2 separate regions of the Homo sapiens genome follow, and region 2 is linked to region 1. The links come from fine-mapping of genetic effects on gene expression. Tissue or cell type: lymphoblastoid cells. Region 1 holds a variant in brackets; the other region holds the start of a gene. All regions are shown on one strand. Distances are between the middles of the regions.

What was found. PIP is the estimated chance that this variant, and not a neighbour inherited with it, causes the effect.
Region 2: it holds the start of INSL3, and the variant in region 1 is fine-mapped to the expression of INSL3 in lymphoblastoid cells (CAP, PIP 0.95).

Annotation. Positions count from the first base shown.
Region 1 is chr19:17,441,217-17,446,770 of GRCh38, forward strand. It overlaps TMEM221 (transmembrane protein 221), which reads right to left. Exons shown (of 3, transcript NM_001190844.2): 2 at 3,983-4,068. Among named protein-coding and RNA genes, the nearest start is that of TMEM221, 4.7 kb to the right of the region's middle. RefSeq lists a silencer at 104-153. The variant C/CT (reference allele first, on the strand shown) is at 2,763.
Region 2 is chr19:17,818,415-17,823,968 of GRCh38, forward strand. INSL3 (insulin like 3) reads right to left here and starts at 3,105. Exons shown (of 2, transcript NM_005543.4): 1 at 2,903-3,105. The coding sequence starts at 3,092.

The sequences.
Region 1 (5,554 bases):
AAAAAAAAAAAAAGAAGGGACTTTGAGGACCTGAGCTAGCTAGCCCTCCATCAGCCTCTCCAGCATACAGTTGGCACCATTCTTAGTGGTGGTGCATCGTAGGACGTTTAGCAGCTTTTACCCACTAGATGTCAGTAGCATCCCACCCTCAACTCTGTGGCGACCACCAAAAATGTCTCCAGGCAGTGACAAAAGTTCCTCTGAGGCCAGAATCAGTCTCAGTGGAGAATCCCTGGTTTGGTCCCTATCTCTACACTGCAGAGTGGATTTGGGATCACTAAGCCACTTTGGCATCAATGATGTCCTCATTGGACCAAGCTCAGCCAATCAGAGCATTAATTGCTTCCCCTGATGTTAGTGATTGGTGGAGGAATATTACATGGCCCAAGCTCAGCCTATCAGAGTCAGCCCTGAGACTTTAGCCTGGGCTACTGGGACAGATAGATTTTCCTGCAGCGTCTAGGGTATTGGTAGGAGAGGGGCCCAGAACACATGGGGGACTTTTTTTTTTGGCACTTTCCAGGCTGTTTATACGCGTTCTCTGGCTCTGTACTATTGCTTTGGAAGATATCACACTGCATGATGTCCCACATGTGAAAGCAAGGCCAAGGACTTTTTTTTTTTTTTTGGCTGGAAACATTTTGAAAGGGATTTTGTAATTATTCTTTTAGTTCTAGCTAGCGATGAATGGATGATTGGTTGGATGTGCTTGGGAATTCTTGCTGAATGAGGTCACCTAGCCTCAAAAACAATCTAAATGGGAGGTGAATGAATTCTCAATTTTACGCTTAGTGAGGCTGACATAATGTTACCTTTTTTTTCCTTTTGTAATTGTTCTTGTATTTTAGAATGAGGATATCTTATTCCCTAGGTCTTTAATATTTCTGTTGGCCTGTGCAAAGACTCAAGGCTCCAGGCATCGTGTCAAAAGTGCTTACAGATAGAGGCATCTTTCTCAGAGAGAAGCCCATTCAGGGAACAGCAGATGAACAGGTGAAGTGACAAGCATTTCTGTTTCTTTTTTCTTTTATTATTATTATTATTATCAACAACATCATTTTTGAGACAGAGTCTCACTCTGTCACCCAGGCTGTGCAATGGCACAATCTCGGCTCACTGCAACCTCCGCCCCCTGGGTTCAAGCGATCCTCCTGCCTTCAGCCTCCTGAGTAGCTGGGTCTACAGGCATGAACCACCATGCCTGGCTAATTTCTTTCTTTTCTTTCTTTTTTTTTTTTTTTTAGATGGCATCTCACTCTGTCGCCCAGGCTGGAGTGCAGTGGCATGATCTTGGCTCAGTGCAACCTCTGCCTCCCAGGTTCAAACAATTCTCCTGCCTCAGCCTCTGGAGTAGCTGGGATTACAGGGGTATGCCACAATGTTTGGCTAATTTTTGTATACTTAGTAGAGATGGAGTTTCACCATGTTGCCCAGGCTGGTCTCAAACTCCACCTCAAGTGATCCACTCGCCTCGGCCTCCCAAAGTGCTGGGATTACAGGTGTGAGCAACCACACCCGGCTGAGAGGCATTTCTGATAACCTAATTTGAGTGCCTGGATCCAGCCACACCTGAAGCCAACTTCCCCTGACAATTTCAGATGCACAAGTCATCCATCCCTTCTCCTTTTTTTAAAAAAAAAACTACTTCTGGAGCATTTCATTAAGTCAAACAACAAAAGTTATGCAGTGTTCCGTGCACTTCACATATATAAATTCCCACAGTGAGCCTTAGGCTCACATCTCATTAAAAATATTTTGAGGGCCTGGCGTGGTGGCTCAGGGCCGGGCGTGGTGGCTCACGCCTGTAATCCCAGCACTTTGGGAGGCCGAGGTTGGTGGATCACCTGAGGTCAGGAGATCGTAGACCATCCTGGCTAACACGGTGAAACCCCGTCTCTACTAAAAATACAAAAAATTAGCTGGGCGTGGTGGTGGGCACCTGTAGTCCCAGCTACTCAGGAGGCTGAGGAAGAAGAGTGGCATGAACCCAGGAGGCGGAGCTTGCAGTGAGCCGAGATCACACCACTGCACTCCAGCCTGGGCGACAGAGCGAGACTCCGCATCAAAAAAAATTTTTTTAATATATCTTTTTAAACATTTATTTATTTATTTATTTATTTATTTATTGAGATGAAGTTTCAGTCTGTCACCCAGGCTGGAGTGCAGTTGCACGATCTTGGCTCTCTGAAACCTCCACCTCTCAGGTTCAAGTGATTCTCCCACCTCAGTCTCCCGAGTAGCTGGGATTACAGGCAGCTGCCACCAGGCCCAGCTAATTTTTTTGAATTTTTAATGGTGGGGTGGGGGGGCGGTTTCAGCATATTGGCCAGGCTGGTCTTGAACTCCTACCCTCAAGTGATTCACCCACTTTGGCCTCCCAAAGTGCTGGGATTATAGGCATGAGCCACCGCGCCCGGCCTAAATATCTTTTTAAATTTCTATTTTCTGTGGTGGGACTATGAAAAAAAAACAGTAATAGCAAATCCTGTTTTTCATTCAGTAGGATATTTTTTCTTCCTGTAAAACAGATTGTTTACAGGGCTGGCAGGGACTTATATATGATTCAGCATTGAGTCCGCAGCATCATCAACACATTTGTTTCAAGATTAAAACCAAATATAAGGCGTTAGGAGTCTCTTGAAAGACACTTAATGATTTCATTCCTTTACCAGCCCGGATGGATGAAAGAAAGTTGATTGAAGAAAAGTTATTACAAATCAGGAAGGAAGGACAGTGTGATGCGTTCCAGCATCTGGGGTATC[C/CT]TTTTTTTTTTTTTTCTCAAGCCATTTTTGAGCTGGAGATTGATATTTGTAACCAAAACAGCTTTCACTCATTCCAACCTGTAAAATGCTATCTTTTTTTTTTTTTTTTTTTTTTTTTTTGAGACGGGGTTTTGCCCTTGTTGCCCAGGCTGGAGTGCAGTGGCACGATCTTGGCTCACTGCAACCTCTGCCCCCTGGTTCAAGTGATTCCCCTGCCTCAGCCTCCTGAGTGGCTGATATTATAGGCGCCCACCACCATGCCCGGCTAATTTTTTTGTATTTTTAGTAGAGATGGGGTTTCACCATGTTGGCCAGGCTGGTATCAAACTCCTGACCTCAGGTGATCCACCAGCCTCGGCCCCTCAAAGTGCTGGGATTACAGGCGTGAGCCACTGCGCCTGGCCAAAATGCTATCTTTAGACACCACGCAGGCCATGAAAATTTTTGTTCAAACAAATTATAAAACTGATGAATCAGAAGTGTTCTGATGACAGCTAGCATTTGTGGAGTCCCTGCTGGAGTCAGATGCCATCCACGGGCTTTTTTTTTTTTTTTTTTTTAATGAGATAGGGTCTCGCTGTATCACCCAGGCTGGAGTGCAGTGCAGTGGGGTGATCATGGCTCACTGCAGCCTCAACCTTCGGGCTCAAGTGATCCTCCCACCTTAGCCTCCCGAGGAGCTGGGACTACAGGTGTGTACCACCACACCAAGTCTATATATAGATATATAATATATAAATATAAATATATTATATAAATATATATTAATATAAACATATAAATATAAATATATATTTATATATTTAATAAATATATATTATATATATATATAGTTTTTTTTTTTTTTGTAGAGATGGGGTTTTGTTATGTTGCCCAGGCTGGTCTCAAACTCCTGGCCTCAAGCAATCCTCCTACCTCAGTCTCCCATATTGCTGGGATTACAGATGTGAGCTACTATGCCTGGTCCTATGGGCTTTCATGAGGATTAAATCTCAGAATCTCCTCAAGTGATTCTGTGAGGTAATGACAGTTATTCCCATTGTACTGATGAGGAAATCAAGGCACAGAGAGACTTTGCCCAAGGCACCAAAGCAAAGAAGTGTCAGAGCCTGGAGTTGAACTCAAGGAGGCTGTCTGCAGAGTTGATCCCAGTTAGGGGACCATTGCTGCTCTCTACCCAGCCCAGGGTCCCATGCCCCACGTTCTATTCCAGCACACACCTGCTAAATAGACGGAGATCCCACAGCAGAAAAGGCCAAGGGCCACATGTCTGAGGAGGCGGCAGTCGTAGAGAAACCAGTCAGACCTGGAATGAAGGGGAGCAGGAAGATAAAGGGTTCAGGAAGTGGAGCTGGTGGGGGGAGGTCAGTGAGGACAGGGAGGGAGAGCCGCTTAAATGAGACAAGGACCCAGCTTTCAGGGACCCAAAATCTATGTGAGTACCTAACCATCATCCATCTACTTGCCCACCCATTTACATCCATTTACTTATCCACTCTCCATCTATCCATCAATTCATCCATCAGCTCATGTATCCATCAGCCCATCCATCCATCTATCCACCCATTTATCCATTCATCCATTCATCCATTTATCCACCCATTCACCCATTTGTCCACTCATCCATCCATCCACCCATCCATCCATATGCCCATTCATCCATCCACCCACTTACCCATCCATCCATCCATCCATTTATCCATTCATCCATTCATCCACCCATTCATCCATCTGTCCACTTATCCATCCACCCATCCATCCATCCATACTTCCACTCATCCATCCATCCACTTATCCATCCATCCATTCACTTATCCATCCATCAAACCAGTCATCCATCCACTCATTCATTCATCCATCCACTTATCAATTCATTCATCCATCCACTTATCCATCCATCGGCCCCACCCATTCATCCATCCATACAATCATTTAGATATCCACCATCCACTATCTGATATCTATCCATTTATCTATGCTCCATCCATCCACACATCCATTTTTCCAAGTCAGTGTCCACCATCCATTTACCATTCATATTCATTGATTATTTGACCAGCACTCATATACAGCCTTCCATCCATTTAACCATGTGCTATTCATCCATCCATCCATTCATTTAAACACCCTCTGCTATCCTATCTATCCATCCCTCACCCACCCATCCACTGGTCATCCATCTTCCATTCACTATCCATCCACCCCTCATCCATCCATCCATCCATCTATCCATCCATCCATTCATCCTTCCTTACTTCGATCCATCCACCATCCATTCTCTTTCCCCTATAACCCATCTATATGCATGAGTCCACTCAAACACTCAACACTCAGGATGCAGCTACTATGTGCAGATACTTGCTACACACCTGGCTTCCATTATTTTACAGACTACAAGCTTCTTTGAGAGATGAGGAAACTGAGTTTCACATGCTGTTATTGATGATACAAACCGCGACCCCAAGAGGTGAGACTGATTGAGGAGGAAGTGGAGGCTATAAGAGCTTCCATCCTCACTCAGCTCCCACCAGTATAATGAAAGTGGACGCCTTCCCCATCTTCCTGTCGCCTTCCCTCCTGTCCCCTTTTCAGCACAGTGGCTAGAGGTGGTCATTCAAAACCTAAATCAGATCACCTTCCTCCTTACTCACAACCCTCCTTAGCAGAAGAAATCCCAAAGTCCTATCTCCTCTCTATCCCATCTCTCTGTTTCCTTTCCTTCTCAGCACTCATTACCATCTGCTATTATTATTATTATTAGAGATGAGGTCTCACTATGTTGCCCAAACTAG
Region 2 (5,554 bases), 380 kb after region 1:
TGACCAGCCTTGGCAATACAGCAAAACCTCATCTCTGCAGAAAATACAAAAATTAGCTGGGCATAATTCTGCATGCCTGTAGTCCCAGCTACTTGGGAGGCTGAGGTGGGAGGATCGCTTGAGCCTGGGAAGGCAAGGCTGCAGTGACCCGAGATCGTGCCACTGCACTCCAGCCTGAGTGACAGAGCAAGACTGTCTCAAAAGAAAAAAAAAAGGACTTATGAAAATTTAGAGGGTTGTTTACCCTCTACCCAATCTGCAGTTTACAATTGACACCAGTGGTTCTCAAACCAGGGTGATTTTGTTTCCAGGGGATACTTGTCTGGGGACAGTTTTAGATGTCACAACTTGGATGGGGTGTGAGGCTATTCATGGCATTAGGGGGCAGAAGACAGAGATGTTATCTAACACCCTACAATATACAGGACAGCCCCACTACCATATACATCCCCAAATGTCAGCATCAGCTTTTTTTTTTTGAGATGGAGTCTCGCTCTGTTGCCAAGCTGGAGTGCAGTGGCGTGATCTTGGCTCACTGCAACCTCCACCTCCCGGGTTCAAGTGATTCTCCTGCCTCAGCCTCCTGAGTAGCTGAGACTACAGGTGTGCGCCACAACGCCCGGCTAATTTTTGTATTTTTAGTAGAGACGAGGTTTCGCCACGTTGGCCAGGCTGGTCTCACCAGCCTGAGAGTAGCTAGTCACAGCTACTCAGGAGGCTGAGGTGGGCAGATTGCTTGAGTCTGGGAGGCAGAGGTTGCAATGAGCCGAGATCACGCCACTGCACTCCAGCCTGGGTGATAGAGTGAGACCCTGTCTCAAAATATATATATATAATAATAATAATATTAATATTTTTCCCTTTTTTGAGACAAGGGTCTCTGTCTCAGGCTGAGTCTCATATTGCCCAGGTTGGTCTCAAACTCCTGGCCTCAAGTGATCTTCCCTCCTAGCCTCCTGAGTAGCAGGGATTACAGGCATGAGCCACCACATCCAGCAAGGTAAGTATTTTAATGCAATACTTTTAAAATAAAATTTAAAATATTTGTAAAAAGGCCAGGCACAGCGGCTCACGCTTGTAATCCCAACACTTTGGGAGGCTGAGGCGGGCAGATCACCTGAGGTCAGGAGTTCAAGACCAGCCTGGCCCGGGCACAGTGGCTCATGCCTGTAATCCCAGCCCTTTGGGAGGCCGAGGCAGGTGGATCACGAGATCAGGAGATTGAGACCATCCTTGCTAACATGGTGAAACCCCATCTCTACTAAAAATACAAAAAATTTAGCTGGGCTTGGTGGCAGGCGCCTGCAGTCCCAGCTACTCAGGAGGCTGAGGCAGGAGAATGGCGTGAAGCCGGGAGACGGAGCTTGCAGTGAGCCGAGATCACACCACTGCACTCCAGCCTGGGGGACAGAGCGAGACTCAATGTCAAAACAAAACAAAACAAAACAAAACAAGACCAGACTGGCCAACATGGTGAAACCTGTTGTTTCACCTGTTCACCTGTCTCTACTAAAAATACAAAAAAAAAAAAAAATCAGCTGTGCATGGTAGTGGGTGACCTGGGGAGTGGCCTGTAATCCCAGCTACTTGGAAGGCTGAGGCAGGAGAATTGCTTGAACTCAGGAGGCGGAGGTTGCAGTGAGCTGAGATCGTGCCACTGCACTTCAGCCCGGGTGACAGAGCGAGACTCCATCTCAAACAAACAAACAAAATACAAAAATTAGCCAGGTGTGGTGGTGCGTGCCCGCAGTCCCAGCTACTCTGGAGGCTGAGGCAGGAAAATTGCTGGAACCCGGGAGGCAGAGGTTGCAGTGAGACGAGATCACGTCACAGCACTCTGGTTTGGGTGACAGAGCGAGGCTATGTCTCAAAATAAATAAATAAAAATAAAATAATAAAATAAAGTAACATAATTGTGAAAAGCAATACTTTTCAAAAGCAATACTTTTAAATACTTTTAAAGCTGGACACAGTGACTCACATCGCTAATCCCAACACTTTGGAAGGTCAAGGTGGGAGGATTACTTGAGCTCAGGAGTTTGAGACCAGCCTGGGAAACAGAGTGAGACTCCCTCTCTACGAAAAAGAAAAAAAAATTAGCTGGGTGTGGTGGCAGCACCTGTATCCCAGCCACTCCAGAGGCTGAGGCAGGAGGATGGTTTGAGCCCAGGAGGTTGAGCCTGCAGTGAGCCGAGATCTCACCACTGCACTCCAGCCTGGGCGTCAGAGTGAGACCCTGTCTCAAAAAACAAACAAACAAAGCAAAATTAAGGCAAAAATTCATGAAGATCAAAATATTGAAATTTTAAGACAGGATCTCACCATGTACTTGCAAGAGCCTACCTCTCCTGCCTCACTCTGTTTCTGGCCCCTCAGGGGGACTCATGCTCTGAGGACTTTCTTTTTTTTTTTTTTTTGAGACGGAGTTTCACTCTGTCGCCCAGGCTGGAGTGCAATGGCATGATATCGGCCCACTGCAACCTCTGCCTTCCGGGTTCAAGCGATTCTCCTGCCTTGGCCTCCCAAGTAGCTGGGATTACAGATGTGCATCATTATCCCCGGCTAATTTTTTTAAAAATTATTTTTAGTAGAGATGGGGTTTCACCATTTTGGCCAGGCTGGTCTCGAACTCCTGACCTCTGGGGATCCACCCGCCTCAGCCTCCCAAAGTGCTGGGATTGCAGGCGTGAGCCACCACGCCTGGCTAACGGCTCTGGGGACTTTCACACGCGCGTTCACACACACTCCAGTGCGGACCCACGATCTGTGCACGCAGCCGGCAGGTGAGCCCTGGGCACATGCATGCAAACCTGCCCACCTCCCTGCACGTGTGCATCTGCGCCTACGTGCACCTGCCCCACCTCGGCTTCCCAGAGCGCTGTCCCTGCCCGTCCCCACTCACGGTCGCCTCCGGTCGCAGGCCTCCTGGCTTCGGTGGACCAGCGGGGGCCCCCGCACACGCGCACTAGCGCGCGTACGAAGTGGTGGCCGCACAACTTCTCACGCATCTCTGGGGTGGGCGCGGGGCCCAACGCGAACACCAGGGCAGGGCCCAGCAGCACCAGCGCCCAGGCGGGCAGACGGGGGTCCATGGTGGTGGGTGGCGCCGGGGCCAAGCGGGGACCCCCTTTATAGGCGCCTGGGCCGTCCCAGCTGGGGGCCTTGGAGAAGGGACAGAACATTCTTCAGGACCGCCCAGGAAAAAGGTCAAGGGTGGGGTTAGTGCCAGAGCCTTTCTCCCAGGGCCAGGGCCTTGGATGTACTTCTCCCAGAGGGAGCACTGGGCAACGAGTCTTTCTTTTTTATTTTTTTCTTCTTTTTTTTTGAGATGGAGTCTCACTCTGTCACCCAGGTTGGAGTGCAGTGACTTGATCTCGGCTCACTGCAACTTCTGACACCCGGGTTCAAGCGATTCTCCTGCCTCAGCCTCCTGAGTAGCTGGGATTACAGGTGCGCACCACTATGCCTGGCTAATTTTTTTTTTTTTATTTTTTATTTTTAGTAGAGACTGGGGTTCGCCATGTTGGCCAGGCTGGTCTCCAACTCCTGACCTCAAGCGATCCATCTGCCTCGGCCTCCCAAAATGCTGGGATTACAGGCATGAGCTGTGCCTGGACTATTATTATTTTTATTATTATTATTGAGACAAAGTCTTGCTCTGTCTTCCAGGCTGGAGTGCAGTGATGCGATCTCGGCTCACTGCAACCTCCACCTCCTGGGTTCAAGTGATTCTCCCACCTCAGCCTCCCAAGTAGCTGGGATTACAGGTGTAAGCCACCACGCCCAGCCACCTATTTTTATTTTTTATTTTTGAGATGAGTTCTTGCTCTGTTACCCTGGCTGGAGTGCAGTGGCACGATATGGGCTCACTGCCACCTCCCTATCCCTGACTCAAGCAATTCTCCCACCTCAGCCTCCTGAGTAGCTGGGACTACAGGCCCACGCCACCACACCCGGCTAATTTTTTGTATTTTTTTTGTAGAGATGGGGTTTTGCCATGTTGCCCAGGCTGGTCTCAAACTCCTGGACTCAAGTCATCTTCCCGCCTCAGCCTCCCAAAGTCCTGGGATCACAGGCGAGAGCGACCACACCAGGGTATTTATTCATTTTTGACATAGGATCTCTCTGGGTTGGCCTGTAATGGCAGGATCATAGCTCACTGTAACCTCATTCCCCTGGGCTCAAGCGATCCTTCAGCCTCTGCCTCCTGAGTAGCTGGGACTACAGGCCTGCAATACAATGCCCAGCTAATTTTTAATTTTTTAATTTTTATTTTTATCTTTTTAGACAGAGTCTTACTCTGTCACCCAGGCTGGAGTACAGTGGTGCGATCTCGACTCACTGCAACCTTTGCTTCCTGGGTTCAAGCGATTCTCCTGCCTCAGCCTCCTGAGTAGCTGGGATTACAGGTGCCCACCACCAAGCCTGGCTAATTTTTGTATTTTTTAGCAGAGACGGGGTTTCACCATGTTGGCCAGGCTGATCTCAAACTCCTGACCTCAAGTGATCCACCCGCCTCGGCCTCCCAAAGTGCTGGGATTACAGGCGTGCACCAACGCGCCCGGCCATTTTTAATTTTTTAATTGTAGAGGCAGGGGTCTTGCTATGTTGCCCAGGCTCATCTAGAACTCAAGTGGTTCTCCCTACTCGGCCTTCCAAAATGCTGGGATTACAGGTGTGAGGCACCACACACGGCCAAGTCTTCGCTATTGTCTTAACCAGTTTAAAGAGATGAAATAGATCAACTGAAAAGTAATAATCCTGCCTTTTCTGGGGGGCAGGGGGGAAGACAGCGGGCATCTTCCAAGACCAGAAATGTTCAGAATTTTGTTGTTTCTATTACTGTACAAATGAGAAAACTGAGGCACACAGGCCAGGTGCAGTGGCTCATGCCTGTAATGCAAGCACTTTGGGAAGATGGGGCAGGTGGATCACTTGAGGTCAAGAGTTCGAGACCAGCCTGCCCAATATGGTGAAACTCTGTCTCTACTAAAAATACAAAAATTAGCCAGATGTGGTGGTGCATGCCTATAATCCCAGCTACTCGGGAGGCTGAGGCAGGAGAATCACTTGAACCCAGGAGGTGGAGATTGCAGTGAGCCGAGATGGTGCCGCTGCACACCAGCCTGGGGACAGAGACTCCGTCCCCTCACCAGACAAAAAGAAAGAAAAGAAAAGAAAAAAAGAAAACTGAGGCACAGAGAAAGGACCCCAAACTTGCCCAAGGTCACAGGAGGCTGAGCAGAGCCCAGGTCTTCTCAAGGCGCCTGACACGCAGGGCTGGGGGTGTCCCATCCGAAGCTCTGTCTCCCCAACACGGTTGTCCCCTCTGGGTGAGCAGGGGCTGGTGGACCCAGAATAGAGCAGGATTTATTTGTTCAGTGGATGCTTGGCCCCCGCTTCATGCCTAGGGGGTCTTATAGCTTTGTTTTTCCAAGGAGGGAATCTGAGGTTGAGAGAGGGAAGGATGCTTGACCCTAGGCAGGAGAGAACCTGGGCTGGAACTCGAGTCTTGCTTGACCCCAGAGCAGCTCCCTCCCTATTTCTACCAAAT